Linked DNA regions of Homo sapiens: regions 1, 2, 3, 5 and 6 are each reported to be linked to region 4. Evidence: microRNA targets listed by miRTarBase, many of them from high-throughput screens and not tested one by one. Region 4 holds a microRNA gene; each other region holds the end of a gene's coding sequence.

Region 1 (5,070 bases), not on the chromosome of region 4:
GAGATGCAGGAGAGTCTGTGTATAAACTGCAGTCTCCTTCATGGAAGCCTGAGCTTCACTCCTCTGTGCCATTGCCATCTTGAAACCTGGCTGTTAATATTGGCATTGCCACTTGTCAGTCAGACCTGAGGAAAACAGGTTCATGGGCCTGAGTCCTTAGCTTGTGTAAGAGGGAGTTAAAACAGATGTGTGCTAACCTTCTAGGTCTAAAGTGTATCTAGTCCTGGGTATAAAGCTTGTCCTGGGTATGATTTTCATCCAGTCTTTATACAAAAATACTCATTGAGTTCCTGCAGATAACTGTGCTGGGCTTAAGAGAAAAGAGATGTAACAGGGATAACTGTGCTGGGCTTAAGAGAAAAGAGATGTAACAGGGGTAACTGTGCTGGGCTTAAGAGAAAAGAGATGTAACAGGGGTAACTGTGCTGGGCTTAAGAGAAAAGAGATGTAACAGGGATAACTGTGCTGGGCTTAAGAGAAAAGAGATGTAACAGGGTCTCTTCGCTGAGCAGACCTGAGCCATTAAACAGATTGTTACCCAGTAGTTGAAATTCAGAATGGAAAATTGGTTTTAAGTAATGAACATACTTTATTTTTTTCTCCTCCTTTTAGATGGTGAAGAAAGCCAAGACTATGATGAAGAATGCTCAGAAGAAGATGAATCGGTTGGGGAAGAAAGGGGAGGCGGATAGACACGTGTTTGATATGAAGCCCAAGCACTTGCTGTCTGGGAAGAGGAAAGCTGGTAAAAAGGACAGGAGATAGTATCCGTTTGGTTGGCGTGGCTTCGCTAGAGTGTTGCTGTTTATTTCCTGGTTTGGCACAGTATGGTTTCATGAAATTGGAGCTCTGTATAAACTGAAAAAGACAAAATAAGTAAAGCACTTGTTGCTTTGCTGAAAACTATGGTTAACCCTATATAGGTGTGGGAAATTTTTGTCACTGCATAATATTACAAATATTTTGAGTAGACAGTGTTTCCACATTTAATGGAGTATCAGTTGCTTCAGATTTTCAGAACTGGGAAGATTTACTGGTTTAACTAGGTTGTTTTTGATGGAGAAAAACCTTATTTTCTTTTGTAAGAGCTGGGAGCAAACACGTTTATGAGTGTGTCGGAATCCCGTGCTTAAAATACGCTCTTAAATTATTTTCTAGTCTTATTTTACAATGTCTCATTGTAGTCTGTCTTCAACTATTTTATCCAAAATAAACCTCCAGAAGAAAGTAGTTTTCATTTACTTAGCTCATGTTTTGGTTTAGTTATAGTCGCTATGGATTTGGCCAAATAAAAAGGCAAACAACATGACATTTCTATTTTGTTTTAAAGCAAAAATACTTTTGGGGGAGTAAAATGTTGCTGGAGGCATTAGGCAATTAAATATGGGCATTCTCCTATTTCTGTGGCCCGTCCCTGAAGTTACATGTTCAGTAAAACACAAAAACACCGCCAATGCCACCTCAAAAGCACCTGCTGGGGAGCGTTGGGGTGAAGAGCTGTGGGGTCGGAGGGACCTGCCCAGGGGTCCGTGTGCTCCTGGAGCTCCAAAGACACACAGGGGTCCAAGAGCCACCACGGATAAGTTATCAAGTCACACAATCAACATTATAGCTGAGGAAAGGACTTTAGTTAATCACACTTCTGGATTACATGTGGCAATTTTAAAAATTTACCAGGGCTGGGCTGGGCGCAGGGGCTCAAGCCTGTAGTTCCAGCACTTTGGGAGGCCGAGGTGGGCAGATCAGGAGGTCAGGAGTTCGAGACCAGCCTGGCCAACATGGTGAAACCCCATCTCTACTAAAAATACAAAAATTAGCCATGCGTGGTGGTGGGCATCTGTAATCCTAGCTGCTCGGGAGGCTAAGGCAGGAGAATTGCTTGAGCCCAGAGGCGGAGGTTGCAGTGAGCCGAGATCGTGCCACTGCACTCCAGCCTGGGTGACAGAGAGAGACTCCGTGTGAAAAAAAAAAAAAAAATACCAGGTCTGGTTTTTGAAATTCTTTCTCCGTATTAAACACCAAAACTTAACATATAGTTTACTTTGTGTTAAACAACAACAGTATGGCCGGGCGCGGCAGCTCATGCCTGTAATCCCAGCACTTTGGGAGGCCGAGGCAGGCGGATCACGAGGTCAGGAGATCGAGACCATCCTGGCTAACACGGTGAAACCCCGTCTCTACTAAAAATACAAAAAATTAGCTGGGTGTGGTGGCGGGCGCCTGTAGTCCCAACTACTTGGGAGGCTGAGGCAGGAGAATGGCTTGAACCCGGGAGGCGGAGCTTGCAGTGAGCCAAGATCGCACCACTGCACTCCAGCCTGGTCGACAGCGAGACTCCATCTCAAAAAAAAAAAAAAAATACCAGGTCTGGTTTTTGAAATTCTTTCTCCGTATTAAACACCAAAACTTAACATATAGTTTACTTTGTGTTAAACAACAACAGTATGTTTTAAAGCAAGTATGTCTTTATTTGTAAGCATATTACTGAAACGATCAAATGAACAGAAGTGGATAAACGTCGAGTCACTTGGCTGAGACCATACGCATCTTCCGTACTGCTTGTATTAGGATGCAAGATTGAATGTGTCTTTTTTTTAAAAATGCAGCCTTGTGTTGCACTCTGAAATAAGTGATTTAAAAAGAAAAACATGATACAGAGATCCCATCCTGACCTTGGAGGCTTGGATAAAGCTGTGGGGAGACAGCCTCATGGTCCAGCCAGGCTAGTCCGCCTGCTTCAGGACTCTCAAGATCTCCCCAAGACTTTCAGGATCAGCTGCTGTTAATCAAACAAGTGCTTATAAAATGGAAATTGGGACAAAGGAAATGTTAAATTTCCTCCCTGCAACCAGGCAGATGAGAAATATGGAAATAAGGAAAAGGGAAAATGAAGATATGACAAAGTTGATGAAAAGGTTGAAATAGTGATTTATACATGATGGGCAATCAAGTGCCCCTTTTGCCCTGTTTTTTGGAGAGGGTGTATCATTGCCTCAATGGTGCGTCTGCCTGCACTGAGGGCATTACACATGGCTGACTCGACCTCCCTGCCTCTCACACTCTGTGTATTTTGTGAAGCTCCACAAACGGGGTCACGTCATCCAGGTGAGGCCACCACCGGTACAGAAACCTCTCGGCAATGGTTCTTAGCCAGGGGGTGACTTTGACTTCACCCCTCGCCTCCCTCTCCAGCAGCTCCCACAGCTCCTCCTGGGACAGGTAGAGGATGCTTTTCGTTTCACTGGGATCCGGGTTCAGAGTGACGTTTTTCCTCACAAGCAGAAGGTAACAAATTTCATGCTCTCCCCAAATTCTGTCTGATTTTGCCTTGTGGTGATAGATTGTCATGAACACAATGTCCTCTGGAGAAATCTATTGACAGAAATTGGTGCAGTGTTAACAACGCTAATGTAAAACACAGAATTTACAGAAAAATAGAGAAAATAAACACATTTGTTTTCCTCAGAAAATGAACACTTTCTTTGGTAATTGATAATTTCCAAAACCTCGATTTTAGCTAAGTAAATTTTTGTGGACTCAAGTCTGAATGATAAACCGGCTTTGGTTTCTTGGTTCCAGTAAACCTGTCTGTCTTCATTTAAAGAACTAACCGTGTCACACACACATCCTCAACAGAAAACCCCGTAGAAACCGGCTAGCGTTGTCAGGAGAACATCCATCCTCTCTTAAACGTGTTCTTGAGTGGATGAAGGTAACACATGCTCACAGGATCCTGGACATTCTTTCTACACTTGAATTTCTTTCTTTTTTTTTTTTTTGAGATGGAGTCTCGCTCTGTCGCCAGGCTGGAGTGCAGTGGCACAATCCCGGCTCACTGCAACCTCTGACTCCCAAGTAGCTGGGATTACAGGCGTGTGCCACTACGCCCAGCTAATTTTTGTACTTTTAATAGAGACGGGGTTTCACCATGTTGGCCAGGATGGTCTTGATTTCTTGACCTTGTGATCCGCCCGCCTCGGCCTCCCAAAGTGATGGGATTACAGGCGTGAGCCACCACGCCCGGCTTGAATTTCCTCTTCGGTGTGTGGTCGACAGATTCCTGCACAGTCTCAACCCTGCCTGGGACACATAGGGACTCACACTGCCCCATCCACAGCTACATTCACAGCCCCATTCACAGCCCCATTCACAGCTCATTCACAGCCCCATCCACAGCCCCATCCTTCATCCTCATGGTGCTTCATGAGGTCAATGGTGTAGATCCAGCCTGGACTTTGTTCACCGTCTGCCCGCTGCCAACCTGGACTCCCGTGGACACAGCTGAGACTGGATGCTGTGTGTACCTGCTCCCCAGGAATTCCCAGCTCTGCTTGCAGACGCCTCTGGGCTGCCCTCCTCACTCCGATGGCATCCTTTTCTTCCAGTTCTGCTGGGTTGTATAATGGGTGGCTACTACAGGAGTCGGTAAAATACCCTGGAAAAAATGCATGTGGGAACATCCCTCTTTATTCCTGAAAAGTGAATATATTAAATACAAATGCAGATGCTTCATGTAAAACCATCATCCGTCATCAGCAGAAGACAGCCTGGCGGGGGGAGTGGGTTTGTCATGGGCTCTCAGAGCAGCACTCGCCTCCAGCCTCCACGGCTGTGGGCTTGGTGAGGGTCTTCCACATGACCACCTGGCGGGGCTGGCCCTGACCGCTCCTGCGGCCCTTCCTGCAGATGTGCACACACATGTCCCGTGGCACTATCCCAGTATGTCTTAGGAGAGGGACTGGTTCCTACTCAGTTTTGTACCCACAGAGGACCTGAGATGCCATGGGGTGGCGGGAGGAGGTGGTGGGGCTGTGGGCTGGGTGGCTGCACCAGCTGGGCTGAGGAAGCTGGGCTGCACTTTGAGGGTGGTGATCAGTGAGCATGGTTTCACAGGAAGACTGCTGGAATACCTTTGACCAAGTTTCCTTACTGAGAGGTTCTACTTAATTTACCCAAGTAACAGCAATAGCGCTATGACGGGAGGTCACACTCTCCTCAGTAAATCTCTGTTCCCTCTCGTTCCTCAGACCCTCAGTGCTTCCTTCGGTCACTCTGCAAGGAGTTTGGCTG
Region 2 (5,070 bases), not on the chromosome of region 4:
AGGAAGCCTCTACTGGACAGGAACTTTCCAAATTTAATCCATGTGGAAAAGTCTTTACTCTAACTCCAGGTCTTGCTGTACATCTTGAAGTTCTCAATGCAAGACAACCCTACAAATGTAAGGAATGTGGAAAAGGCTTTAAGTATTTTGCAAGCCTTGATAATCATATGGGAATCCACACTGATGAGAAACTCTGTGAATTTCAGGAATATGGGAGAGCTGTCACAGCTTCTTCACACCTAAAGCAGTGTGTAGCAGTTCATACAGGAAAGAAATCCAAAAAGACTAAGAAATGTGGGAAATCCTTCACTAATTTTTCTCAACTTTATGCACCTGTGAAAACTCATAAAGGAGAGAAGTCCTTTGAATGTAAAGAATGTGGAAGATCCTTTAGAAATTCCTCATGCCTTAATGATCACATTCAAATTCACACTGGAATAAAACCACACAAGTGTACTTACTGTGGGAAAGCCTTCACTAGATCAACTCAACTTACTGAACATGTAAGAACTCACACTGGAATAAAACCCTATGAATGTAAGGAATGTGGCCAAGCCTTTGCTCAGTACTCGGGCCTTTCTATACACATACGAAGTCACAGTGGAAAGAAACCCTATCAGTGTAAGGAATGTGGGAAAGCCTTCACTACATCCACAAGTCTTATTCAGCATACAAGAATTCACACAGGAGAGAAGCCTTATGAATGTGTTGAATGTGGGAAGACCTTCATTACTTCTTCCCGTCGTAGTAAACATTTGAAAACTCATAGTGGAGAAAAGCCCTTTGTATGCAAGATATGTGGGAAAGCATTTCTATATTCCTCACGCCTTAATGTTCACCTGCGAACTCATACCGGAGAGAAACCCTTCGTATGTAAAGAATGTGGGAAAGCATTTGCTGTTTCCTCACGCCTAAGTAGACATGAAAGAATTCACACTGGGGAGAAACCCTATGAATGCAAGGATATGAGTGTTACCATTTAGCCCATCGGTTGCCATCTTTAATTATTGGCAATGACACCAAAGATTATCAGATTTGTCCTAAATGCCTTTTGGAGGTTGTAATGACTCATGGATTGGCCTTAGATACCATCCTGAGGGTCTGAAATTAAACCTACAGGTTCTGAATACAACATCATGGTTGCCTGAGTCTGGGCATCTGTGAAGAAGGGTCATGGATGGTGAGGTCAGTACTGCAGGCTGCCTCACCTTGGTGATTAGATTCCTAAGATCATAGCATTAACAAGTTGTGTATGAGATAAATCATGCAGATTGACCCCAGCCCCTGTTGGTTAGTGGCTGCCAGTGTGGCACATTTATGTCAAAATTTACCAGAAGCCAAGATGATGTAGGACCCCAAAGGTGGGTTGTTAAGAGATGCTCCTCCAAGGGTCTCTTCTGATCCCACGGATCCTGCAGAGCGTGTCAGGAATGAAACCATCCATAACTGCCAGTGCCCTTTCACAGCTGATTATTTCTGTGTCCCCTTGTAAAATCTAAGAAGTGTGACAGCCTTGCCTGTTCTGCCTTGTATGTCTATTTTAGATGGCACAATGTAAGTGGCAATGTCTCTTCTAGTATAATCCAGTCTCTCTTCTCACTTCTGTCAAGGTGGCTGATATAGTCCATGAATCCCACTCATGATCTCTTTATCAGATGATCGTTCAGCCACACTTTGAGGATTCTCTTCAGTACAAGTTTTCTAATTTTTGCATTATGGATAGGCTGAGAATTTTCCAAATCTCCAAGTTCTGGTTCCTTTTTCCTTAACAATTTTTTCTGCAATTCAGGTCTCCTTTTGCATTTTTGCTGAGACCAGCTGGGTCATGGAGACCCTGACCCAGCAGCTCTAGAGGAATTAAGACAAAGACACAGAAATAGAGTGCAGAGTGGGAATCGGGGCTCACAGCCTTCAGAGCTGAGAGCCTTGAACAGAGTTTGACCCACATATTTATTGACAGTAAGCCTGTGATAAACATTATTTCTATAGATTATAGATTAGCTAAAAGTATTCCTTACAAGAAAGAAAGGGACAGGCTCTGGCTTGTTATCTGCAACAGGAACATGTCCTTAAGGCACAAATCACTCATGGTATTGTTTGTGGTTTAGGAATGCCTGAGCAGTTTTCCAGTTTTCCACCGTGGGTGGGCCAGGTGTTCCTTGCCCTCATTCGGGTAAACCAGCAACCTCCAGCATGGGTGTCATAGCCATCACGAGCATGTCACAGTGCCGCAGAGATTTTGTTTATGGGCAGTTTCTCATGGCCTGTTTATGTCCAAATTTGGGGGGCCTGTTCTGAGCACATTTTCCTGTAAGCACTCAGGAAGAATGAAGCTTCCTGTGTCCTTTAACACTTTAAGTACAGATCTTAGTGATACATAACCAGTTTTATCTCTCTCAAGCTCTACCTTCCGCAAAGTGCTAGAATACAGTTCTGCCAAGTTCTTCACTACTTCGTATCAAGGGTTGTATTTTCTTTATTTCCCAATAGCATGTTCCTCATTCCCCAATGACACCTCACCAGGATCACCCTTACCAACCTTACTTCCAGCTTGCACATCAGAATTTTTCCAGCCTCATTTGTCAGTTTCAAATCTGCTTCACATTTTTAGTTTTTTTGTTTGTTTGTTTTTAATCTGCCTTAATGAGCTCAGGCCACTATCACAAAATACCACAGACCAAATGGCTTACAAATTTGTTAATTTTAAATAAATGAGGTTAAAAACAAATTTATATTCTCACATTTCTCGAGGCTGGAAGTCTGAGATCAGAGTGCCAGCATGGTCAACTTCTGGCGAGAGCTCTCTTCCTGGTATGTAAATGCCCACTTCCTCATGTCTTCACAGGAAGGAAACCAACAAATAGGTCTCTCTCTCCTCTCTCCTTTCTCCTCTCTCCTCTCTCCTCTTTCTCTCTCTCTCCCCACCATCTCTCTCCTTCCCCTCCCTCCCCCTCCCTCCCCCTACCCATCTCTTGACATCATTTCACGATACTTCTAAAGAGCCTATTTTCAGGCCGGGCGCGGTGGCTCACACCTGTAATCCCAGCACTTTGGGAGGCCGAGGTGGGCGGATCACGAGGTCAGGAGATCGAGACTGTCCTAGTTAACACGGTGAAACCCTGTCTCTACTACAAATACAAAAAATTAGCCTGGCGTGGTGGCGGGTACCTGCAGTCCCAGCTACTCGGGAGGCTGAGGCAGGAGAATGGCATGAACCTGGGAGGCACAGGTTGCAGTGAGCCGAGATCGCAGCCACTGCATTCCAGCCTGGACAACAGAGCGAGACTCTGTCTCAAAAACAAAACTAAAAAACCCTATTTTCACATACAGTCACATTGGGATTTGGAGCTTCAACATATGAATTTTCAGGGTTATCATTCAGTCCAAAGTACTTAATATGATTCTTTTCCGTTTCCACATAGACAATCACATAATCTGTAAATAATGACTCTTACTTTTCCACTTTAGTCGTTAGGTTATACCTATATATATATTTTCTTGCTTTACTGGACTAATTTCAACCTCCAGCACACCACCAATGAATAGCAGTAATACCAGCATAATTGTCTGCAGTTCTGCTGAGATACGTGCTCTATTTTATTGGCTTGGCTGTAGGTTTTTATTTTATTTTTTGAAGAGGCTAATCTCTTACAGGAAAGGTTTCTTTTTATATCCAGTTTTTACATGATGAATGATTTCCCAGTATTTCATAATTCATGAGGCTGAATTCCTCTTGAATTTATTAAATGCTTCCTGTGCATCCTCTGTGATGATCATGTTTATTTACTGCTAGAACTCAAGTACCTAGAACTGTTCCTGGCCAATGATGGTATGTAATAAATACTTCAATGAAATGATGTGGTGATGCATGTCTATAGTTCTAGCTACTTGGGAGGATGGCCTGAACCCAGGGGTTCTAGACCAGCTTAGACAACATAGCAAGACCACATCTCAAAAAACAAAAAACAAAACGAATGAATGAATGCATGGAAGGACTCATCTCTAAAATAAATGTGGTCAGGTTGGGTGTGGTGGCTCATGCCTGTAATACCAGCACTTTGGGAGGCAGGGATGGGCAGATCACTTGAGGTCAGGAGTTCGAGACCAGCCTGGCCAACATGGTGAAGCCCCATCTCTACTAAAAATACAGAAATTAGCTGGGTGTGGTTGTGTGCACCTGGAATTCCAGCTACGCAGGAGGCTGAAGCAGGAGAATCGCTTGAACCTGGGAGGTGGAGGTTGCATTAAGTGTAGATTGTGCCACTGCACTCCAGCCTTGGTGACAGAGTGAGACTCCATCAGAAATAAAATAAAATAAATGTGTTTTTGTATTTATTACATTTCTAGTGTTACATCAACCTTGCATTCCTGGATAAGCCCAACTGAGACATAATGGATCATTTTAAAAGACTATTTGATTACCTTTACTAATATGTTATGGAGCTATGTTTGAATAACTGCAATTTTTTTTTCTTCTTGTCCCTGAATGATTTTTTTTTTTTTTTTGAGACAGAGTCTGGCTCTGTGTCCAGGCTGGAGTGCAGTGGCACGATCTAGGCTCACTGCAACCTCCACCTCCCCGGTTCAAGCGATTCTCCTGCCTCAGCCTCCAAGGAGCTGGGACTACAGGCATGCACCACCACGCCCAGCTAATTTTTGTATTTTTAGTAGAGATGGAGTTTCACCATTTTGGCCAGGATGGTTTTGATGTCTTGACCTCGTGATCCAACTGCCTTGGCCTCCCAAAGTGCTGGGATTACAGGTGTGTGCCACTGCACCCGGCCCTGAATGATATTTACATGTAAATTATGACTGTCATATACTGTATTGGGGAATGTTCCTACTTTTTCTAAATTCTTTATCCATCTATATGCTATAAGAATCTAGGCTGGGAATAGTGGCTCAGGCCTGTAATCCCAGCACTTTGGAAGGCTTAGGCAAAAAGATCAGTTGAGCCCAGGAGTTCAAGGCCACCTTGGACATCATAGTGAGACTACATCTCTACTGAAAAATACTACGTGCTGGGCATGGTGGCTCACACCTGTAATCCCAGCACTTTGGGAGGTTGGG
Region 3 (5,070 bases), not on the chromosome of region 4:
TAAAACTGAAAATAAAACCTGGAAAAAGAAGTTACAGATGTGGAGAGAAGAGACACCGGAGGATGGTAACTTGCTGGCTTCGAAACACCATGTAACATCTTAAAAAAAAAAAAAATCCCAAAGCAAATCAGAAAACGGAATTCCAGGGTCCTGAGCCCATGGTTGGGCCCAGTGGGGTGGAAGGGTCCGGGAATGAGGGAGAGGGAAGCTAAGTGTCTCAGGACTCAGCTCAAACGTGTAGAAAATTAAAAATAAAAACCAATAAAATGCAGCTTCTCTTTTATTAGGAAACATTAAAAAAAAAAAAAACCCAAAACACGAACAGCCGCGCATCTCAGTAACAAAGATTATTGCTTTGTGTTCTCAGGGCTGATAGGTTAAGCACCTCACACAGACAATTAACTCTCCAAAGGTGGGGTTTCCGGGTGGGGGCAATGCTGGGGAAGAGAGCTCAGGCCCTGGGCCTCATAACTGGGGGAGAGGGACACACAGAAGGGGGATGGCAGTGGGTGGGCCTTGGCCCTGCCACGCCAGCCAGGCCACTGTTCATGAAGGTCCAACGCTCTGAACCTCTCTTTTTCCTTAGAAGGGGGGTCTGGGGTGAGGGGCTGCCAAGGGACTCTGGCTGTGGGGTCATCCTGGTGGGAAACTTCAGTGAGAGAATGTGGGGGTTCCCTGAGACGCCCTTTGCTTTCCCCTGGGGTCTGCCCTCGCCAGAGCGTCCCCTGGTGCCCACTCATTGCGGGGGTCGAGGGGGAAGGGGGACAGACTGAGCAGAAACCATGAAGCCCCAACCTAGGTAGGGAGCAGGGGAGACCTTTGGAGAGTTAATTCCTGTCCAGCAGTGTCGCTGGGCAAGCCCTGCTCTTCCCACGCCCTTTGCCCCCACACTGGGTTTTTGGAGTGGGCAGGTCCAACCAAGGCCTTGACCCTGAGGGCCTGAGAGAGCGGGCCTGCCGTGGCCACAGCTGAGGCCTGCAAGCTTACAGTAACGGTGTCTGAGGGGACAGAAACAGGGGAGGGGGGAGCCCCTCACCCCCGAGGGGTCTTAGAGAGGGGTGGGCACATCACCTCACAGTATTTACATATGATACAGGACGGGATGGTTCCAGGGGCTCGGCCTGGCCTCCCCGCAGCCCTGCCCTCCTCTCCAGGGCTGGAGGGAGGCGGCCAGGGGCCCACACCCAGATAGACACTTTGTTCTCAGCTGGTGGGGGGCACCTGGCCCCTTGCCCCCTGCGGCCTGGGGCTTCACATTCACAAACCTAGAAATAGTTTAAAAAAGGTTTCTTTAAAAAAAAAAAAAAAAAAAAAAAGGGAAAGGGTAAAGGAGGGGAAATCTGAATAAAAAACAGGGGTTGGGCTGCGGCCTGTAGCAGGCTCCCTCCGCCTTCACTCCAGCTATGCACAAATCCAAAAGCCTTTTGGGGAGGGGGCGGTCCTAGGGGGGCGCGGCACGGAGGGAGGGATGGACCAGAGGGCTGGGGTGGGCAACCGGCTAATCCAAAATAAATAAAAGCAGGGCCGGGAGAGGGGCGGGTGGGGATGGGGGCAAGGGCGAAGAGGGGGACGTTAGTAGGGGAGCCAGACGCTGTTGGGGGCAGCAGGGCAGGGGCCGGGCCCGGGGAGTTGGGGGCAGGCAGTAGCGGGTCCGAGTCGCTGCAGGGGAGGGGGCGGCGGCTGCGGCTGAGGTCTCCCGCCCCCTCGCTGGCTCACTCGTGGTCCTCAGTCAGCTGCAGGCTGGGGCGCTGGGAACACAGCCAGGAGGTTATGGGGGCTCCCGGAGCACACGCAGCCCTCCCCAGTTCTCTCCCAGAAGAGCTTTGTTCGTAAACTACCTACTTTCTTCTTCTTATTTTTTTAGAGACAGAGTCCAGCTCTGTTGCCCAGGCTGGAGTGCAGTGACAGCGATCATAGTTCACTGCAGCCTCAACCTCCCTAGGCTCAAGTGATCCTCCTGCCTCAGCCTCCTGAGACTCTGGGATTACAGGTAGTATCTGGGACTACAGGTGAAAGCAAACACACTCTGCTCATTTTTGTTGTTGTAGCAGAGATGGGGATTCACTATATTGCCCAGGCTAGTCTCAAACTCTTGTCCTCAAGCCATCCTCCTGCCTTGGCCTCCCAAAGATCTGGGATTACGAATGTGAGCCACCACACCCAGCCAGACTTTGCACTTTCTGTTCCCTGGTTGGATGCCTCTTTCCCCAGATTTCGAATGGCTGGATTTATTTAAATGTCCCCTTCTCAGAGATACCTTCTCTAAACCCCACATCTAAAATAGCCCTGTCATGCACAGTCTGGAATTATCTCATATGTTCACTTGATTTTTGTCCTGTGAAATGAGAGAGGACTTTGTCTGTCTTGTTCATCCTCTTTCCTGGAATGGGGCTCATAAATGAATGGGTGAATGAACAGAATGTCATGGGCTCACAGTCTCCCACCATCTGGATAGACACTGTGATGGCCGTGTACACAGTCCCACAAGTCGAGGTATCCTGTTGTTTTTTGTTTGTTGAGGTGGAGTCTTGCTCTGTTGCCCAGGCTGGAGTGCAGTGGCCTGATCTCGGCTCACTGCAGCCTTCGCTTTCTGGGTTCAAGCGATTCTTGTCCCTCAGCCTCCCGAGTAGCTGAGATTACAAGTGCGCACCATCACGCCAGCCAAGTTTTGTATTTTTAGTAGAGATGGGGTTTTACCATGTTGTCCAGGCTGGTCTAGAACTCCTGACCTCAGGTGATCCGCCTGCCTTGGCCCCGCAAAGTGCTGGGATTATAGGCGTGAGCCACTGCGCCCGGCCAAGGTATCCTGTTTTGATAGCTGTGTACTATACCACTGTACACACACTAATTTGTTTAACCACTTTCCTTTTGATGGATATTTCAGTTATTTGCAGTTTTAAAAATAAATGCCTAGAAGTGGAATTGTTGGGTCCAAGGGCATGAATGTTTGAAACTGGGACAAACACTGCCAGACTGCCCCGGGAACCCCTGAGCCACTGTACTTACTTGCTTCTCCCATATCTTGATCAATGCTGGGCAGTGTTCAACTTAAAAAATCTTTGTGGCTGGGCCCGGTGGCTCATGCCTGAAATCCCAGCACTTTGGGAGGCCAAGGCAGAGGAAGATCGTTTGAGCCAGGAGTTCAAGACCAACCTGGGCCACATAATGAGACCCCATCTCTACAAAAAAATTTTTTAAAAACTTAGCCAGGCATGGTGGCATGCTCTTGTGGTCCCCGCTACTTGGGAGGCTGAGGTGGAGGATGGCTTGAGCCTAGGAGTTCCAGGCTGCAGCGAGCTGTGATTGCACACTGCACTCCAGCCTGGGTGGCAGTGAGACCACATCTCTATTAAAAATAATAATAATAGGGCTGGGCACGGTGGCTCACCCCTGTAATCCCAGCACTTTGGGAGGCCGAGGCAGATGGATCACTTGAGGCCAGGAGTTTGAGACCAGCCTGGCCAACATGGCAAAACTCGTCTCTGCTAAAAACAAAAAAAATACCAAAATTAGCTGGGTGCGGTAGCACATGCCTGTAATCCCAGCTACTCGGGAGGCTGAGACACGAGAATTGCTTGAACCCAGGGGACGAGTTTGCAGTGAGCCAAGATTGCGCCACTGCACTCCAGCCTGGGTGACAGAGCGAGACTCCATCTACAAAAATAAAATAAAATAATAGTAATAATAATAAACGATCTTAAAAAATCTTTGTGGCCTGCGCTGGTGGCTCACACCTGTAATCCCAGCACTTTGGGGGACCAGGGCAGGAGGATCCCTTGAGCCCAGGAGTTTGAGACCAGCCTGGGCAACACAGTGAAACCCTGTCTCTACAAAAAAAGTAAAAAAATTAGCCAGGCATGGTGGCAGGTGCTTGCAGTCCCAGCTACTCGGGAGGAGTCTGAGGTGGGAGGATCCCTTGAGCCCAGGAGGTGTGGGTGACAGAACGATATCTTGTCTCAAAAATAATAATAATAATAATCTTTGCCAACCTGATAGGTGGGATGTGAAGCCTTACTGTTGCTTTGATTTCTGTGTTTAAATGGAGTAGGGTGAGCAGCTTTTCATCTTTATTGACCACAGCTGGTATAAAGATCTGTCTCCCCTGGGACTGTGGTTCTTGAGGGCAGGGATGGGGTCTGTGTCCCAGATTCGATGGCCCAGGACAGGCTTCCCCAGTGCCACCCCACCACCTGCCCACCCCCACATCCTCACCTCCTGCCACCGTCCCCTGCTTCAGTGGTACCCATTGGTGAAGGCTGTGGCAATCAAAGGGCCCTGAAAAGGAAAGAATTTGACTCCTAGATTCCTGGGAAATAGAGGAAGATCAGGGGCTCCTTCTCTCTCTGCAGGACATCTGAAGTGAGGCGCTGACCTCTCTCTACCTGTCCGGATCGCCCCCCTACTGCAGGTCTGCCTACCCGGATCACCCCCCACTGCAGGTCTGCTCAAAGATTCTCCAACAGAGGGCCAGGGAATCTGCACAAACCGTACCCTGGATAAAACCAGGGCACCCCTGGAATCAAACCTCCATGTGAGCAGAGATGCCATGTGTCTCATTTGCACCTAGAGCCCACTATGCCTGGCATTCAGAGGCGATAACTAAGTGCCCACTGAATGAATGATAACCCCCACAACTCTTCCTTAGTGATCTTTCTCCATTCATCCTCCCTCACCCTCCTTTTGCCCCCAGAGACAAAGAAGTTCTCTCCCTTCCCCAACTTGGGGGTCTCTCAAGGTGTGGGGGGTGAGGTGGGGGCCGCTAGGCCTGGCCACTCACCCCAAGACTGTGGCCGAAGCCGGTGCTGGGGGCAGGGCTGGCGGCGCTGATGTAACTGCTGACCCCCGAGTCCTGGTTGGCCGCCCCGTAGAGCTCGGCCATGGGGCCGGGGCTGGTGGTCCCCAGGAAGCCCCCTGTGCGGCTGGGAGTCGAACCTGGAGGGGGAGCCATCGTCCAGGGGTGAGAGCCTGGCAACCCAGAAAGAAGACGGTGATAGCCCTGGTGCCCTCTGCCACCCCACGGCACCCCCTCAAGCCTGTCCCACCCACCCTAACCTGGACCCCCACATTTCA
Region 4 (5,070 bases):
ACCCTGCGCGTGCTAGAGGACAGGGCCCTCAAGCGGGGCTTCCAGGAGGTGAGTGTGCGCTCAGGCCGAGGGAGGTGGGGCCTCCAGCAGTGGCCCCAGGCTGCTCTGAGCACCTGTCCTTCCAGGTGGATGAGTTGTTCCTTGAGGACTTCCAGGCCCTCCCCCACGAGCTCTTCCAGGAGTTTGACTACCAGCCAATTGCTGCCGCCAGCCTGGCACAGGTGCACAGAGCCAAGCTGCACGATGGCACCAGCGTGGCTGTGAAGGTATATGGGGGCTGCCTTGTTCAGCAGTGGGCTGGGGCGGGGCACAGTGGGGCCCCAAGTTCTCACCACACCCTCGCCCAGTGCAGGTGCAGTACATCGACCTGCGGGACCGCTTTGATGGGGACATCCACACCCTGGAGCTCCTGCTGCGGCTCGTTGAGGTCATGCACCCCAGCTTTGGCTTCAGCTGGGTCCTCCAGGTACAGCCCCACCCCTTCCCCGGCCAGCAGGAGCAAACACGTAGGCAGAGCTGGTAGGAGCAGCTGGTAGGCAGAGCTGGTCTTCAACCGCCATCTGGCCCCCAGGACCTGAAGGGGACCCTGGCCCAGGAGCTGGACTTCGAGAATGAGGGCCGCAACGCAGAGCGCTGTGCGCGGGAGCTGGCGCACTTCCCCTACGTCGTGGTGCCCCGCGTGCACTGGGACAAGTCCAGCAAGGTGGGCTGGGCCAGGCCCTTGGGGTGGGCACAGCGCTGGGCCTGCTGAGCCCAGCCTCTTGCTCTCCCCAGCGCGTGCTCACTGCCGACTTCTGCGCCGGCTGCAAGGTCAACGATGTGGAGGCCATCAGGAGCCAGGGGCTGGCAGTGCATGACGTGAGTGCGGGGGGGCGGGGGCGGGTCAGGGCGGGCTGGTGCTGTGTCCACTGCAATGCCTCTCCTCTCCCCAGATAGCAGAAAAGCTCATCAAGGCCTTTGCTGAGCAGATATTTTACACCGGCTTCATCCACTCGGACCCACATCCTGGCAACGGTAGGAATTTACCCCAGGGGTGGGGGTCTCAGGGTGGGCGCAGCGCGACCTAAGAGGCTGTATCCCTAGTTCTGGTGCGGAAAGGCCCGGACGGGAAAGCGGAGCTGGTGCTGCTGGACCACGGGCTCTACCAGTTCCTGGAGGAGAAGTGAGCGCGGGTGGGTGGGCGTGGGGCAGGGCAAGCCTCTCCTGCCGCAGGGAGCTCATGGCTGCGGGCCCATCCACACCCAGGGACCGCGCAGCCCTCTGCCAGCTGTGGCGGGCCATCATCCTGCGGGACGACGCCGCCATGAGGGCGCACGCAGCCGCACTGGGGGTGCAAGGTGAGGGCGTGCGGGGATGGCTGGGGCACCACAGAAGGGAGTCGGGCGGCGCGGAACCCACTCAGAGCCCCCTCCCTCCCTCCCTCCCTCCCTCCCCAGACTACCTCCTGTTCGCCGAGATGCTCATGCAGCGCCCCGTGCGCCTGGGGCAGCTGTGGGGCTCGCACCTACTGAGCCGCGAAGAGGCGGCCTACATGGTGGACATGGCCCGCGAGCGCTTCGAGGCCGTCATGGCGGTGCTCAGGGAGCTGCCGCGGCCCATGCTGCTGGTGCTGCGCAACATCAACACCGTGCGCGCTATCAACGTGGCCCTCGGCGCCCCCGTGGACCGCTACTTCCTTATGGCTAAAAGGTCGGTGGCCCGAGGAGGCGCCCGGGCCGTGGTGGGGCTGGTGTGGGGCTGACGCGGCGCTAACGCGGGTGTGTGCAGGGCTGTCCGGGGCTGGAGCCGCCTGGCGGGCGCCACGTATCGGGGTGTCTACGGCACCAGCCTCCTGCGCCACGCCAAGGTCGTCTGGGAGATGCTCAAGTTTGAAGTGGCGCTCAGGTGAGTGGCCGCGGGGCAGGTGGGTGGCGGGGGCCTGCTCCCCACCCACCTGTGACCTGTGACCTGACCCACGCAGGCTGGAGACCTTGGCCATGCGGCTGACCGCCCTCCTGGCTCGTGCTCTGGTCCACCTGAGCCTCGTGCCCCCAGCGGAGGAGCTCTACCAGTACCTGGAGACCTAGGGTGCAGCCGCCCAGGGCCGGCGGGGCCCTTTTCACCTTGGGCTGACGGAGGTGGCGGGGCTAGAGGTGTAGACACCCCGAGCCCCGTGGGCACTCGCACTGGGGGGCTGTGACAGCAGCTGGGCCAGGAGGCCGTGTAATGACCACACACTCCTCTCAAGCAAAAAATGTTTTTCCTTGTGTTTTGTACAAAAAGGGGGTGGGAGGTAGTTCCGTGTGCTGGTGGTGACGGCATCCACGGGGCTAGAAGTGGGCGGTGACGCGGTCCGTCTCCAGCAAGTCGTCCAGGATCTGCAGGGGATGGAAGGGTGGGTGGGTGGGTGGGTGGGGATGCACACGGAGGGGCGGGGCGCGCGGGGGGCGGGGCGCGCACTCACTATGTCTGGTGTGGTGCCGATCTTCTTGGCTAGCTCGCTGCGCTCCATGGTGCTCAGGTACAGGTAGCGGTTGAGCAGCTCCCCATCCAGCACGTTGCGCACGGCATTCTGGAGGGTGCGGCGGTCCACGTGCAGCATCCTGGGGCGTACAGGCACAGGTGTCAGGGCAGGCTGGGGTGGAGGGGGTGCTGCACGGGGGCGGGGCCGGGGCTCACCGGAAGGCGCGGGGGTTGAGGCCGGCGTGGTGTGGCAGCATGGTGGTCAGCGCGTTCTGCAGCATCAGCAGCCGCCGGTAGGTCTTCTCCTGCATGGGCAGCAGCAGCCCGATGCCGCCGTCCAGGGTGGCTGGCAGGGGTAGGGTGAGGGTTTTGGTGTGAGCCAGGCCAACCCTAGGGCCCCCCACCCAGACACACCTGCTCCCCCACACTCACCAAACCACGTGATGTGCTTATTCTCCCACACGACCGACTTTTTGCTGAGCCCTTCAGTGGCCCCCCGGCACGGGGTCCTCCAGAACGTGTTCACGTGGGCACCCACGTGGAAGTCTGCCCGACGCAGCAGGCGCATGCCCCCGAAACTCTCCTTGGCTAGACCAGAAAGGCCTAGGGGTCACTGCTAGCCCAGCCCCGGCCCAGGCAGAGGGGGTGGAGGAAGCACTCACCTTCGGGCAGGTACATGTACACCATGAGGTTGCGGTCGCGGTCAGACACTGGGGAGCAGAGGCCCAGGGTCAGCCCCGGCCACCCCCAGAGCCTCAGCTCCCCAGGGCCCTGCCCACATACCCAGAAAACCCAGCTGGGCATTGTCCACCATGAAGTCCACGCTGTACACCTCCAGGGGCTTGGCATCCTGGGGGCGGGAAGGGGGCGTCAGAGGTGCCTTGGGCGGGTACCCACCCAGACACGAGCACCGCCGCCACAGGTGTACCCGCGACACCAGGCTCAGCGTCTTGCTTTCCTCCTGGTAGCGCAGCAGCGAAATGCTCTTCATGACGTCGGCTGCCAGGATGAAGTTCTTGACGCTGATCATCTGGTGTATGTAGAGCTGCGTGTCGATGAAGGCCATGCCCGTCAGCTCGCTGGCCCGCAGGCTCCACAGGAAAATCTGGGGGCGAGGGCGAGGGTGAGCGGGCGCGGACGGGGAGCCGGGTGAGGGTGAGCCGGGGGACACACGCCGGGTGGGACTGGCACACCTTCTGGCCGATGGCCGACACCAGGTGGCCATTGCAGTGGCACAGGGCGGTCACGGGCCCCTTCTGCTCCTTCTCGTAAAGGACTTTGAACTTGTTCTTGGTCAAGGGCTGGCCAGGCTCGGGCACCACCTCAATCACATCCATGATCAAGATCTGGAGGGCATGGGTATGGCTGTGGGATGGCTGTGGGGATGGCAGAGGGGCTGCCAGTTCCCGCCCCCGCTCACTGGCCCCTTACCCGCCCTCGGCACGTGACCTCCTCCCCCTGCATGAGGCAGGTCCCGGCGGCCACGTAGCCTTTGAGGCCCGACACGGTCTCCTCACTGCGCAGAGACACTGTCTTCATGCAGGTCACATGCTCCCACTCCTGCAGCTCGATCCTGTGGGGGCCAGGGGCCTCAGGATGCTGCCTGGAGGCCTTGGGCAGACCCCACCCCCGCCGGCCCAGCCTCACCTGGCATTGGGAATAGCCTCCCAGCTGACCGGGGAGATGAGCTGGATGGAGAAGGCCTCCTGCTGGGGGTGGATGTACCGCTCATCTGTGGGGACCAAGGGTGACAGTCAGAGTAGGGCTTCCCCAAGATGCGGCTGAGGATGGGAGTATGGTGTGGGCGTCACCACCTCTCTCGATGGTCTCAAACTCCTTCTCCTCGCCAGTCATGCGTGGGATGCGGGCACACGGCGTGTTGGTGCTGGTGGCCACAGCATACACCTGTGGGTTAGTGAGGGTCACACACCAGTGGCCCGGCCAGGCCCAGAAGGTCCCTGGTGGGGTGGGGGTGGGGGCAGACCTTAGACTCCACGTGGTAAGCCACATAGTGGGCCGTGCAGCGCAGCGGGATCTTCCTGACAGGCCATGGGGCATCATAGGACAGGTAGGCAGGCAGGACACTGATCCTCAGCTCGCCCTGGGGTGGGGGCACAGGGGTCAGGGGATCCAGGGCTAGCCAAGGGCAGGGGCAGGCAGGCCCAGGCCGCCAAGAGCCCTGGGATGTTGCCCTCAGCTCTGTGGGAGCAGGGGTGGGTGAGGGGCAGCTGTGTCCTGGCGAGGTCCTGGAAGGGGCTGCCACTCAGCCTCTGGGGCTCCTCCTGTCCATTTTCCCACGCTCAGCTGGGGCTAGGGGTGCTGGCCACAGGGGATGGGAAAGCTAGGCCAGGAGGGCACTGGAGGCTGCAAAGGGCAGCCCACAGACTGCCATGCTGGGGACTGAAAACCAGGCAGAGGGAGCCAGGGCTGCCCTCTTTCATGGACAGTCCTGAGTCCTCAGGCACCCAGGAAGCACTCACCGCATCCCAGGCAGGGTCTCAAGTGACCTGGTGGTGTGGTGGCTTAAATAGGGAACCAGGATGAGAAAGCCTGTGTGCCCTCCCAAAGTCACAGAGCAGCCAAGGGGCAGAGCTAGCACTCACGTCAGCTCTCCTGAGAAGTGTGGAG
Region 5 (5,070 bases), not on the chromosome of region 4:
GCTTGAACTCCGGACCTCAGGCGATCCGCCCGCCTCAGCCTCCCAAAGTACCGGGATTACAGGCGTGAGCCACTGCGCCTGGCCTAAATTTCATAACAGAACCATGACAGCAGAATCTACCTTTGCAATAAGAATGTTTCCCAGGAGTTAGAGACCAGCCCTGGGCATGATGGTAAAGACCCCAGCTAATTATACAAAAAATAATTAGCCGGGTAGGTGGAGTGCATCTGTGGACATTCGTGGTCCCAGCTACTAGGTAAGCTGAGGCGGGAGATCACAAGTCCAGGAGTTTGAGGCTGCACGTGACAGCGTAGGTGATGACAGAGCGAGACACTGTCTCTTAAAAAAAAAAAAAAAAAAGTTTCCCAGTTTGAATTTGTATTGCTGAAGCATTTTTTTGAAATGCTATATAGATGCCTGTCATGTCACAGTGGCCCAGTATCAACATTTTAAAAAGCTCACTTGGTAGCTGGGCTGGTTTCTATTCCTGAGAAATTCCAGAATGCCTCAGATAAAATTCCTTAGTATAATCCCCATTTTCCTTACCAAGGATGGTAGGCTTAGTCACTCCTTGGGAGGTGCCACAGGAAAATTCAGCAGATGTCAACAGAAAAAAAGCCTTTGCTATGAAAAGTATTCACTACCTTTCATATCTCTTGAATACTTGAAATGTTTAATTAGATGCCACCAATAGGGATCCAAGGAGTGTGGGACACGGTTGCGCTGCTTTTCTTTATAAACGTTTATTAAAATGGCTCAACGCTGCATTCAGCTTCACCTCAGCTCTTCTTGTCAGCCAGGAGCCCCGTGTCCTTGGAAACTGTAGCCAAGGTTACTTATTTCCATACTGTGCATTGTGTCAGCCCGCTTCACCCCACTGCTTGAATGGCCATTAATAAGCACTTTTCTTTTTTTGGTGGGATGTTTTGCCTTTAAAATTTTTATGGCTTAGTGTGTAATTTAATTTTTGTCTGGACATGCTTGAGATAGAAGAGGTACTGGATATATGAGGATATTTTCCATGCTTTATTTTTCCTGTGGCTACTAGTTAGCATTCCATAGGGGTTGTGAATTTTTAATTATTTGAATATTTTGTGTACATATACATATTTGAAGGGTTTTGGGGGGGTCTTATTTGTTTAAAGGTGTCTTCTGTTTGCCTATTTCAAGTGTACTTCAGCTTTGCAAAGATTATAGGGCTGTATGTTACAGAAATAGGAAATGCTGGCCCTGTACTGGGGACCACTACAAAAATTCCCTTTAGCCGGGCGTGGTGGCTCACGCCTGTAATCCCCAGCACTTTGGGAGGCCGAGCCGGGTGGATCACCCGAGGTCAGGAGTTCAAGACCAGCCTGGCCAACATGGCGAGACCCTGTCTCTACTAAAAATACAAAAATTAGCTGGGCATGGTGGCAGGTGCCTGTAATCCGAGCTACTCGGGAGGCTGAGGCAGGAGAATTGCTTGAACCAGAGAGGCGGAGGTTGCAGTGAGCCGAGATCGCGCCACTGCACTCCAGCCTGGGCAACAAGAGCGAAACTCTGTCTCAAAAATAAAAAATTCCCTTTAACACCTTCAAGGTCAAATGCCTGCCTTTGTGAACAGTTAATAAACTGACATTTTCAGACATTTGCCATTCAGAAGGGAGCATTGTAGCCTGCTGTAGACCATTCCAGCAAATGTCAGAATGCAGGGCAAGATGTGTGTCGACTATGTTTTTTATGTTTAAGTTACTTACTTATTTCTTCAGGTAAGTGTGTACCAAATAACAATACTGAAAAGCCCTCCCCTTGCCAGGCCGAGGAAATAAAGCTTAAGTGAAACAGCTCTTGGGGGAAAAATGCCACTTTACAAATACTTTTCTAACAAAATAGCATTATAATGAAGTTTTTACTTAATTCCATTATTTATATGTTGACGTGAATGTAAGTGGTTAAAAAGTATTCATGTGGGACATCTCATTACTTTGTAGCTGTGGCTTTATTAACCAGTGAATGCTGTGGCCCTTAGCGAAATGCGTTGTCTTCTGCGTGATGTGGAATTCGCGCCTGTATTTTAAAAGATGGTGTGGTTTCTCCCTTGTTTGTATTTTAATAAACAACTGCTCTAATTGATGTGTTTAGACATTATAAAGCTTTACCTTTAAAATATTTTCAGGGTCTGTTCTGAAATCACCCCTTGTTAAACTTCTCTAACCAAAATACAAGTGTAGAAGAATGTCAGGCTACTAAGCCTTTTCTTGGTCTTGTCTTTGTTGGGTTGATTTCACATAGATGCAAGTCACTAGGATGAACAGGGGCCCATGCGCTTAAGATTACAAAGGTGTTCAGCTTCCCACGTGCGAGGAACTCTTAGTTACAGCCCCGTAGTGCTGCTTGCCAGGAATTCTACAGGTAATTTTCATTAATTACCAAGAACATCTGTCACCAGGTGTCTTCTCGCCCTAGGACAATGGTTATTTGGGTGCTCTTATTCAGAAACTCCCAGACTCAAAGCTGAGCCTCCTACTAAAGCAGCCAGAGCCTCCCTGGATTTTTTTTTTTTTTTTTTTTTTTTGATCTTATAGCATTTGTTGTTTCCTCTGATTTCCCATAGAAACTATTAATAATTTTTTTCATTTTAGTTTTTCTAGAGAATAATGATGCATGTTTATAACAGTGGGCAGCCACGGGTATAAAGCAATAAAAGGTAGAATTTAGATGGGAAAAAACCATTGCCACAAACCAGGTAAAATGTGGAGTATATTTGTCTAAATATGTAGCTACTGGCCTATGTATGGCTTCCTGCCAAAACTGACCCAAAAAATCTAGAAAACTATTCCTCTGGTGAGCAAGCTACAACCTTCCTGATAAATGAAGCCAAAGAGCAGTGCCGCAGCGGGTTCCCATTGCACGGGCAGACGCCCAGGATGCCCTCCATGCAGAAGAAAGGCATGCCCTAGGACAGTGGTTACTTGGGGGCACGTGGAAAGTGCCCAGGAGTGTCCCAGGAGTGGGACAGGGGCGAGCTCATTCACCTTCTACCATGTATCTGATGATGATGAGCGGTGCTGCCCGTTTTATCAGGAGCAGTGAACTGGGTGACAGACAGTCCCAAAGTTAAACAAAGGCAGCCATTGTTTGTTTTTGTTACTTGCTTATCGCTCATACTGAGGTTTGGTTTAGGGCATTTTCGTATGTGGTAATAATAGTCAAGCAGAGGCACCTTTTATTGAAAACCAGTTTCTCTGATGGAGGACACGCTGCTTCGGGGCGCTCCACTAACCAAGAGGAAACCAAAACCAGCACCCCTGATCAGAGCGTGCACTATCAATCATCTCCCACCGGCCCAGCACCGGGGACGGTGTGTCTGCCTGTCCACCAGGATGTGACGCGCCGACAAGACTCTGCTGGGATGTGTATTTTAAGTAATGTTCCCAACTGGCACAGGAGCCACATTTCAGCAGTTAGTTAGTTAGTTACTGGAGAGCACCTTTTTCCCATCATCGACACACACACACCTTGAAATTATTAGTAAAAATTCTAATATGTTAAGCATATAGATTTATTAAAAATAATGCTAATATAATCCTGGGCACATGGATTCCAAGAGAGATTTTGCAGCAGATTTCATTATAGTTACTTAACAGCTAAATAATAAGGGTGTATTTAACTTACTTACAGAGTCACTAAATAATGGAGGGGAAAGGAAAGAGTAGGGCTAATCCAGTAGAGACTGAAGCTGGTTATCAACCTTCCCTAAGCATCTGTCTGGTCCGCAGCCTGGGGCAAAGCTTGTCTCTAAAGGGTTAATGAGGCCCCAAAGTGATTTTTGCACTGAGCTCCTCCTGCACCTACCAAGGTGCCAAAGGCATGAGATTCAGAAGAGAGCAGAACCAGTTTATTAAACTGTTCAAATTGGTAAAAATGATTAAAAGCTAAAGATTTCCATAAACACTATTCCAAAATGTTAATTTTAAAAATGTGACTAGCAATGTATGCATTCCCTTTATGTCCCCTCCCTCCCTATCTCTTAAAATAAATTTGAACACCCAGTGTAAAAAACACTTGAGGGAGAACCAGAAGTCAGCCATTTGAGAAGAGAGTGGAGAGGGAGCAGACGGCGGGGAGCAGATGCCGGCCCCGCTCGGGCTGCTGACGCAGGCTTCAGTGGCACTAAATCCCCCAGTAAGGCATCAGGTGTCGGGACTCCTTCTCATAGACGTCGGGAACTATGCCATAAGGTGTCTGTACCATTTTAACTGTCGACTTCCCAAAGAGCTGGCGCTCGTAGTCTATCAGTTGCCTCCAGAAGCCTACGTTGGGCCTGATGACAGGTCGCCGGGCTTTCACCCAGTTGTACGCCTCCAGCAGGCACACGTTGTGGAATTTCATCAGGTACGCGATACACAGCGTGGCTGAGCGGCTCACCCCTGCAGCACAGTGCACCAAGGTGGCCCCGTGCTTCCTGCTCACACTGTGGATCTTGTCAGCCACGGTGTCAAAGTACAGTCCAATGGGGGCATGCGGCATGTCAGCCAGAGGCACTTTAACATACTCAAATTGGGGCCAGTTGAAATTAGGGATCTCAATGGTAGCATTAACAATGCAGGTGATGCCACGAGCCTGGAGGAGGTGCCGATTGGAGGCCACACTGCCTCTGCCCAGGAATAGAGAGGAGGTGATTTGAGCAATGCCTCCTATGTCTCCCTCGGAAATCATCCGAGGGGCCATGAGAGTCCTTGGTAGCGTGCTGTGACCTCTGGAGCTCATGAAGACGCCAGCAGTCACACTTGCATCGTTGGCGGCAAGACCAGAGTGTTTTATTTTCCTCCACCAAGGAATCCAAAATTAGAGTCTCCTTCCTGCAAAATACAGGTATGTGTCAGTACTTTAAATGCTACTGATTCATCACAGCCTTCTGTCACATTTGTCAAATGGGAAGATTAGAGGGTTTTTTTTTAAATAATACAGTACAATCTTTCAAGGATACAGACAAATCATTTTCTATCAATTAACAGTTGGGAAAAGTCACCTAAGACACAAACATGTGAAATCAATGTAAAATTCAGCTCTCTGGTGATTGTCCAAAAA
Region 6 (5,070 bases), not on the chromosome of region 4:
CTGCAGGCTGGGGCCGGGCTGGCGGGGCCCTCCCGACTGACTTCCCCTTGCAGAACCCAGCGGGTGCCGCTTCTCCACCCGAGGCTTCCACCTCCAACGAGCCATGTTCCAGGCTGCAGGAGCCGCCCAGGCCACCCCCTCTCATGTAAGTGCCCGGCTGGGTGGGAGGGCCCCCCGGACAGGAGCCTGGCCTGGGGTGAAGGGGAGAGGCATCAGAGTTTGCCGGCCCCCTTTGTGCCCTGCGGCGCGCCCCTGGGCCTTGGGCTGATGGCTGCAGCCCTGATCCAGGGCCTCCCGGAGCTGCCCCTGCCCTGACCGCCCCTCTCCCTCAGGACGCCAAAGGCGGCGGCAGCAGCACGGTGCAGCGCTCCAAGGTAGGGGCCTGGGGCCGGGTGTGCGGGAGGAGGGGTGTGAGGGAGCGGGATGAGCACTGGGGCAGCACCTGGCTGAGCTTCCCGCACAGTCCTTCAGCCTGCGGGCCCAGGTGAAGGAGACCTGCGCCGCCTGCCAGAAGACCGTGTACCCCATGGAGCGGCTGGTGGCCGACAAGCTCATTTTCCACAACTCTTGCTTCTGCTGCAAGCACTGTCACACCAAGCTCAGGTGCGCCCCTGCCCTGCCCGCCCCCGCCTCGCCTGCCAACCCAGCCCCGACCTGACCTGACCTGACGCCGTTGTTTGGCTTCTGCAGCCTGGGCAGCTACGCCGCGCTGCACGGGGAGTTCTACTGCAAACCCCACTTCCAGCAGCTGTTTAAGAGCAAAGGCAACTACGACGAGGGGTTTGGCCGCAAGCAGCACAAGGAGCTCTGGGCCCACAAGGAGGTGGACCCCGGCACCAAGACGGCCTGAGGCCTCTGTAACCTTCCACCCCCTCTGCGGAAGGCCTGGAGCCGGCAGGGGGAAGGTGGGAAGGAGGTCGAGCTGGGCTTGCGTGGGGGCCAGGTGGGAAGGGGATGAGGCTTGCTCAGGCGTAGGGGACCAGGGCAGGGCTCTGCTCCAGGACTCCTTCCTTCTTCCTTCTCCCGCAGCCGGTGAGGGTTTGGAAACCAGGATTGGGGTCTGCCCACCACCCTGCTTCCTGCTTCGTTCAGCCTCCCTCCCCACCTCACCCCAGGACCCCCTGGGAGGCCCCCAAGCCCAGCTCCCCTATCTAGGTGCCTTTTCTCCAGCAAGGAGTCAGCATGCCCCCCTCAGGGTCCCAAGCTCCCTCACTGCCACCGGAGACTGTGTGGCCCCCACGTCTCCCCATCTACCTCTACCCTTAACCTGTTTCTGAGCCACGGAGACAGGGAGGAAGGAGCGCGACAGTGCCACCTGTTGGGCATCATAAATGCCCCTGCAGCCCATGGGGGAGGAGATGGGGAAGTGGAGCCACCCTGCCTCTGCAGGGCAAGGCAGGGCCTGCCCCAGTGGGGCTTGGGACCATCTCGAACCACCAGCGTGGAGAAGCAGAAGCAAAAGCACTCGCCAGGCTGCAGCCTCAGGCACTGGCAGGGGCTGGTGCGGCCCCACTCCCCTCCCCCGCTCCCATTTGTGCCCATCCTGTTGTGACCAACCCCGTTTTAAACATGTTTCAATAGATCCAGATTCTCTATTGTGTGGCCTGCTGGGGGATCTGTCACAGGAAGGGTGCAGACTCACCATGGGGCGGGCATGGGGGGACAGGGCCAGCCCCGACTACCTCGGCCCTGATGGGGGCAGGGAGCTAGAAGTGGGTGTCAGTTCCCTGACACACCATTGAGAAATGGGAGGGCTCCTCTTCACAGCGAGGGCTTCATGCTGTCACACCCACAGTGGTTTTGGAACTGAAACTCCACCTCACCCCTCAGTTCTGGGTTGGTTCAGACCCACCAACTTACCATATGCACCCCATTGTGAAGAGGCCTGAGAGCGGGAGGGCCAGGCTGCCAGTGGGTGATGGCGCCTGTCCTCGCTGCACTTCAGTGCCTGGGGTGCAAGCTGCCGCGTTCCCTGGCTGGTTCCAGCTGTCTAGCTCCCTCCCTTCTTCCCAGCCCTTTGACCTGGAAGTAAGTTAGCGAAGAATGGCGGTAACCAGCAGACCCAGCAAGTGCTGCCCAAGGTTTTAGTGACCCCTGGATTGTCCCCCCTCATCATTACCCCTCGCTGCTGTCATCATCCCCTTGCCTTTTCAAGCTCTGCGGAGGTGCAGTCACAGCTACTGTCTCAGGAAATCCAAAGAGAAACTACCTCTGCTTCTCTGAAAACCCAGGGACAATGAGGGATGAGTTCACAGCAGAGCAAACCAGGCAAGTTGGGAGGACCTGAGGGCGCCCCGGTGGGACACAGGCAGAAGTCTGGGTTGTCCTGCTCCAGATTCAACTTCCTGATGTCTCCAGACATGGGATCGATGAGAACAGAGACTCCTGGAGGGTTTGCTGCCACCACACCATACAACTGCCTGAGTTCCTAAGTGGCCTCCCCGTGGAACAGGGCAGGGAGCTGGGCCACAGGCTCCAGTGTCACATAAGTCACTATGCTGAGGCAGGCACTGCTCCTCGAGGGAGCAGAGCGAATACTCAGCAGAGATGGTGCCCCGGCCTGGATCCTCCCAAGTGTGAAGTGAGCGCCTCAGAGCCTCTCAGGGCAGGCCAACTTCCTGCACCAGAGGTCTCAGATGGCAAGGATCATCTTGGTTCGGTTAAGCAACAGTAGCAGATGACCACAAGGGGGTACTGGAGAGGTGGCTCTTGGAGACACCTGACCCCTGCCCTGCAAAGATGGGACTGAAGGAAGTCCTCTGGGCCAGGAAGACCCTACCAAATATCATGAAAGCTCCGGGAACTCAGCCACTGGTGACGTTCAGGTTGTGAGGGCCAGCAGTGCCACCCTGGTAAATCAGCCCTGTTGGGACCACCCCAGTGGAGCTCCTGGAGGGGCAACTGGAGGAAAGGGGCAGACACCTCTGGACTGACAATGGTATCAGCCAGATCACCCCAGGACCCCTCTACTTGGAGTCAAGTTCTCTTCTGCTTGAAAGGCCCAGGCTCGTTGCCAGGCACCATACCTGGCCCCTGCTAAGCAAAAACCTACCTCCACCCCCCACAACTGAAAGCACTGCCACAGGACCCCTCTGATATAAATGATCCCTTTTATTGTAAGTAATGCGCAACACTGGCCTGGCTTTGCACTGCAAGCCCTCGGTCAAGATATAGTCAAATAACTATGGCTGCAGGTTCCACAGTTCCACAATAACCATGGCTGCACGATCCACAATTCAGACACAGACATAGAGCTGGGGTGGGTGGAAGGGGCAGGAGGGTGGCAGAGTGCGGACTGTCCCCAGCCCTGGCCTCTCCATGCAGAGTTGGCCCAGGCAGACACACCCCATGGAATGATGAGAAAGTGACGGCACGGCCCCTTCCCACAGCAAGCCTGGGGCTGCCAGGAACTGCCCTTCAGAACCTTTGGGCCCAGGTCACCCTGAAGCCCCACAACTTTTTATCTGGATTAGTTATTAAAAAACAATAAATTAAGCAACAACTTGGTCCTGAGGATGCTGAGCCAGCATGTCCACAGTTTTTGGCACAAAAAAATTAGGGTCTGTTTTGCTTTTTTGGAGTGCAGGGTTTGTTGGCTTGTCTTCAAATTCATTTTCAAAACACATTCCCAGTGAGGTAAGACCCCAGGGGGTGGAGCTCTGTAAGACCCTGAACCTGGGACGCACAGTTGAGTCAGCCAGCACCGTGCTCTGTATCCTCTTGGGGAACAGGGACTGGGGATGGGGGTGCGGGCCAGGAAGAGTGTGCAGCCACCAAGATGGGGTCGTAGAGAGGCCGAGCTGCCACACAGCAGCTTTGGTCAAGATGAGGGCCAGGCCCCACCCTGGGCAAGGGCCGAGGTGGAAGCAGGAGCCTGTGTTGTCTTCAGAGGGCAGTGTGGGGTACAGGGGCTGATAGAGCCCCTGGGGGAACAGGGATGGACACAGGAGGGTCCAGGCCCAACTGGCGCATGCGACACACACTTCTGCAAAACCAGCTGCTTTCATTTTCTCTTCTCTCTCTTGAGGCGTCCGTCACCTGTAACAGTCTAGAATTGATATATATAAAAACCATCAAATATGATCTGAGATATAAATTAACAAGTACAAGGCCTCACATTACATGATGTGAAAAGGCTAAAAACAGCGATAGAAACTACATTCATAAAAGTGCATCGTCAACATACAACGAAGGCTTTGGCTTGTTCTGTGCCCATGGGGATGTAGGCATGGCTGGCAGGGCTGCCTGGCACTAATCCCCAGCTCCCTGGAGATGCCCATCCCTGGGCACTGGCTTTTTTTTTTTTTTTTTTCCTTTAATGACAACTCCCAAGGAAACTGGGTGTTGAGAGGGAGGAGCTCTAGCAATAGGCACATTTTGGAGGGGAGGGGCCGGAAGAAAGGACCAGCGCCCAGGCTGAGGTAAATATGGCCAACTCTAAGCTGCTTGGAGATGCTGTTTCCCCAACCCCTGCTGCCATTCCCCCTCCAGGGGAGGAGCTACAAGGGAAAGGGGCTGAGACCTCAAGGGGATGGGCGAGGCTGGCTGAGGAAGAACAGAGCTGGCGGTTTTGGACACAGCTGGTGGTAGCATATGGGCTTTCCCTTCTACCAGATGGAGTGGGCTCTGGCCTAGCAGGTCACGACTCAGGCAGCCTGAGACACCTCCTCGGGCTCTCTGGGATCAGGGCACTGGCCAGGCCAGATGCCCCGACCGTGTCGTCCATCTCCCCTTCTGCTCCAGTGGGGAACAAAGGCTGGGCCAGGAGCGCAAAGGCCACAACCTTCAGCTCTTTTCAATGCAGCCTAGGCCCAAGCCCAAAGCAGGGGTACTCAGAGCCCAGAGGGCACACACAGTCTCCAGTTTAGAAACTGGGTACAGCATAAGAGTGACTCCAACTTGTAAAACAGAGACAACTGCATTGACAAAACTGGATCCCCCCTCAGTGGCAGCAGTTCCACATCGCGGGCCCCTGCCTGGGAGAGGCAGGGTCATGGCCACAGGCAGGACAGGCTCCTCCTTCCCTGAATAAGGCAGCATGACATTTGCTTCATTCATCTTTGGTAAAGG

What was found. The annotated mature microRNA hsa-miR-939-5p reads UGGGGAGCUGAGGCUCUGGGGGUG and lies in region 4 at 3,185-3,208, opposite strand. An mRNA with a match to its seed (bases 2 to 7 or 8) in the 3' UTR can be bound and repressed. Matches are read on the target gene's strand: a 7mer-m8 pairs with bases 2 to 8, a 7mer-A1 pairs with bases 2 to 7 and ends in A, and an 8mer does both.
Region 1: the mRNA of GTPBP4 is a reported target of hsa-miR-939-5p. Seed matches in the 3' UTR shown: 7mer-A1 at 2,754-2,760 and 7mer-A1 at 3,303-3,309.
Region 2: miRTarBase lists ZNF561 as a target of hsa-miR-939-5p. Seed matches in the 3' UTR shown: 7mer-A1 at 2,918-2,924.
Region 3: miRTarBase lists MSI1 as a target of hsa-miR-939-5p. Seed matches in the 3' UTR shown: 7mer-m8 at 1,579-1,585, 7mer-A1 at 1,426-1,432 and 7mer-m8 at 1,023-1,029.
Region 5: miRTarBase lists DUSP14 as a target of hsa-miR-939-5p. Seed matches in the 3' UTR shown: 7mer-m8 at 4,102-4,108.
Region 6: miRTarBase lists LIMD2 as a target of hsa-miR-939-5p. Seed matches in the 3' UTR shown: 7mer-A1 at 1,098-1,104, 7mer-m8 at 1,142-1,148 and 7mer-A1 at 1,243-1,249.

Annotation. Positions count from the first base shown.
Region 1 is chr10:1,016,463-1,021,532 of GRCh38, forward strand. GTPBP4 (GTP binding protein 4) reads left to right here. Exons shown (of 17, transcript NM_012341.3): 17 at 613-3,470. The coding sequence ends at 765. It overlaps IDI2 (isopentenyl-diphosphate delta isomerase 2), which reads right to left. Exons shown (of 5, transcript NM_033261.3): 4 at 4,305-4,435; 5 at 2,448-3,372. The coding sequence ends at 3,055. Among named protein-coding and RNA genes, the nearest start is that of IDI2-AS1, 3.6 kb to the right of the region's middle.
Region 2 is chr19:9,606,113-9,611,182 of GRCh38, reverse strand. It overlaps ZNF561 (zinc finger protein 561), which reads left to right. Exons shown (of 6, transcript NM_152289.3): 6 at 1-3,854. The coding sequence ends at 983. Among named protein-coding and RNA genes, the nearest start is that of ZNF561, 13 kb to the left of the region's middle.
Region 3 is chr12:120,341,358-120,346,427 of GRCh38, forward strand. It overlaps MSI1 (musashi RNA binding protein 1), which reads right to left. Exons shown (of 15, transcript NM_002442.4): 13 at 4,778-4,965; 14 at 4,213-4,275; 15 at 1-1,748. The coding sequence ends at 4,234. Among named protein-coding and RNA genes, the nearest start is that of PLA2G1B, 16 kb to the left of the region's middle.
Region 4 is chr8:144,391,009-144,396,078 of GRCh38, forward strand. It overlaps MIR939 (microRNA 939), which reads right to left and starts at 3,222; the gene lies at 3,141-3,222. ADCK5 (aarF domain containing kinase 5) reads left to right here. Exons shown (of 15, transcript NM_174922.5): 5 at 1-48; 6 at 126-266; 7 at 353-466; 8 at 572-703; 9 at 775-858; 10 at 933-1,014; 11 at 1,084-1,162; 12 at 1,246-1,337; 13 at 1,437-1,689; 14 at 1,768-1,884; 15 at 1,961-2,234. The coding sequence ends at 2,066. CPSF1 (cleavage and polyadenylation specific factor 1) reads right to left here. Exons shown (of 38, transcript NM_013291.3): 27 at 4,427-4,543; 28 at 4,257-4,347; 29 at 4,090-4,174; 30 at 3,874-4,015; 31 at 3,636-3,788; 32 at 3,371-3,547; 33 at 3,226-3,292; 34 at 3,105-3,152; 35 at 2,875-3,030; 36 at 2,659-2,788; 37 at 2,444-2,582; 38 at 2,223-2,357. The coding sequence ends at 2,310. RefSeq lists silencers at 3,173-3,334, 4,687-4,900.
Region 5 is chr17:37,511,952-37,517,021 of GRCh38, reverse strand. DUSP14 (dual specificity phosphatase 14) reads right to left here. Exons shown (of 3, transcript NM_007026.4): 3 at 3,524-4,841. The coding sequence starts at 4,749. The coding sequence ends at 4,153. It overlaps SYNRG (synergin gamma), which reads left to right. Exons shown (of 22, transcript NM_007247.6): 22 at 1-2,215. Among named protein-coding and RNA genes, the nearest start is that of DUSP14, 25 kb to the right of the region's middle. RefSeq lists an enhancer at 3,852-4,365 and a silencer at 4,124-4,514.
Region 6 is chr17:63,694,332-63,699,401 of GRCh38, reverse strand. It overlaps LIMD2 (LIM domain containing 2), which reads left to right. Exons shown (of 5, transcript NM_030576.4): 2 at 54-145; 3 at 333-374; 4 at 464-603; 5 at 691-3,514. The coding sequence starts at 104. The coding sequence ends at 850. MAP3K3 (mitogen-activated protein kinase kinase kinase 3) reads right to left here. Exons shown (of 16, transcript NM_002401.5): 16 at 3,097-5,070. Among named protein-coding and RNA genes, the nearest start is that of LIMD2, 3.3 kb to the left of the region's middle. RefSeq lists silencers at 1-78, 169-398, 4,759-4,858 and enhancers at 1,359-1,668, 3,739-3,838, 3,879-3,938, 4,029-4,098, 4,160-5,047.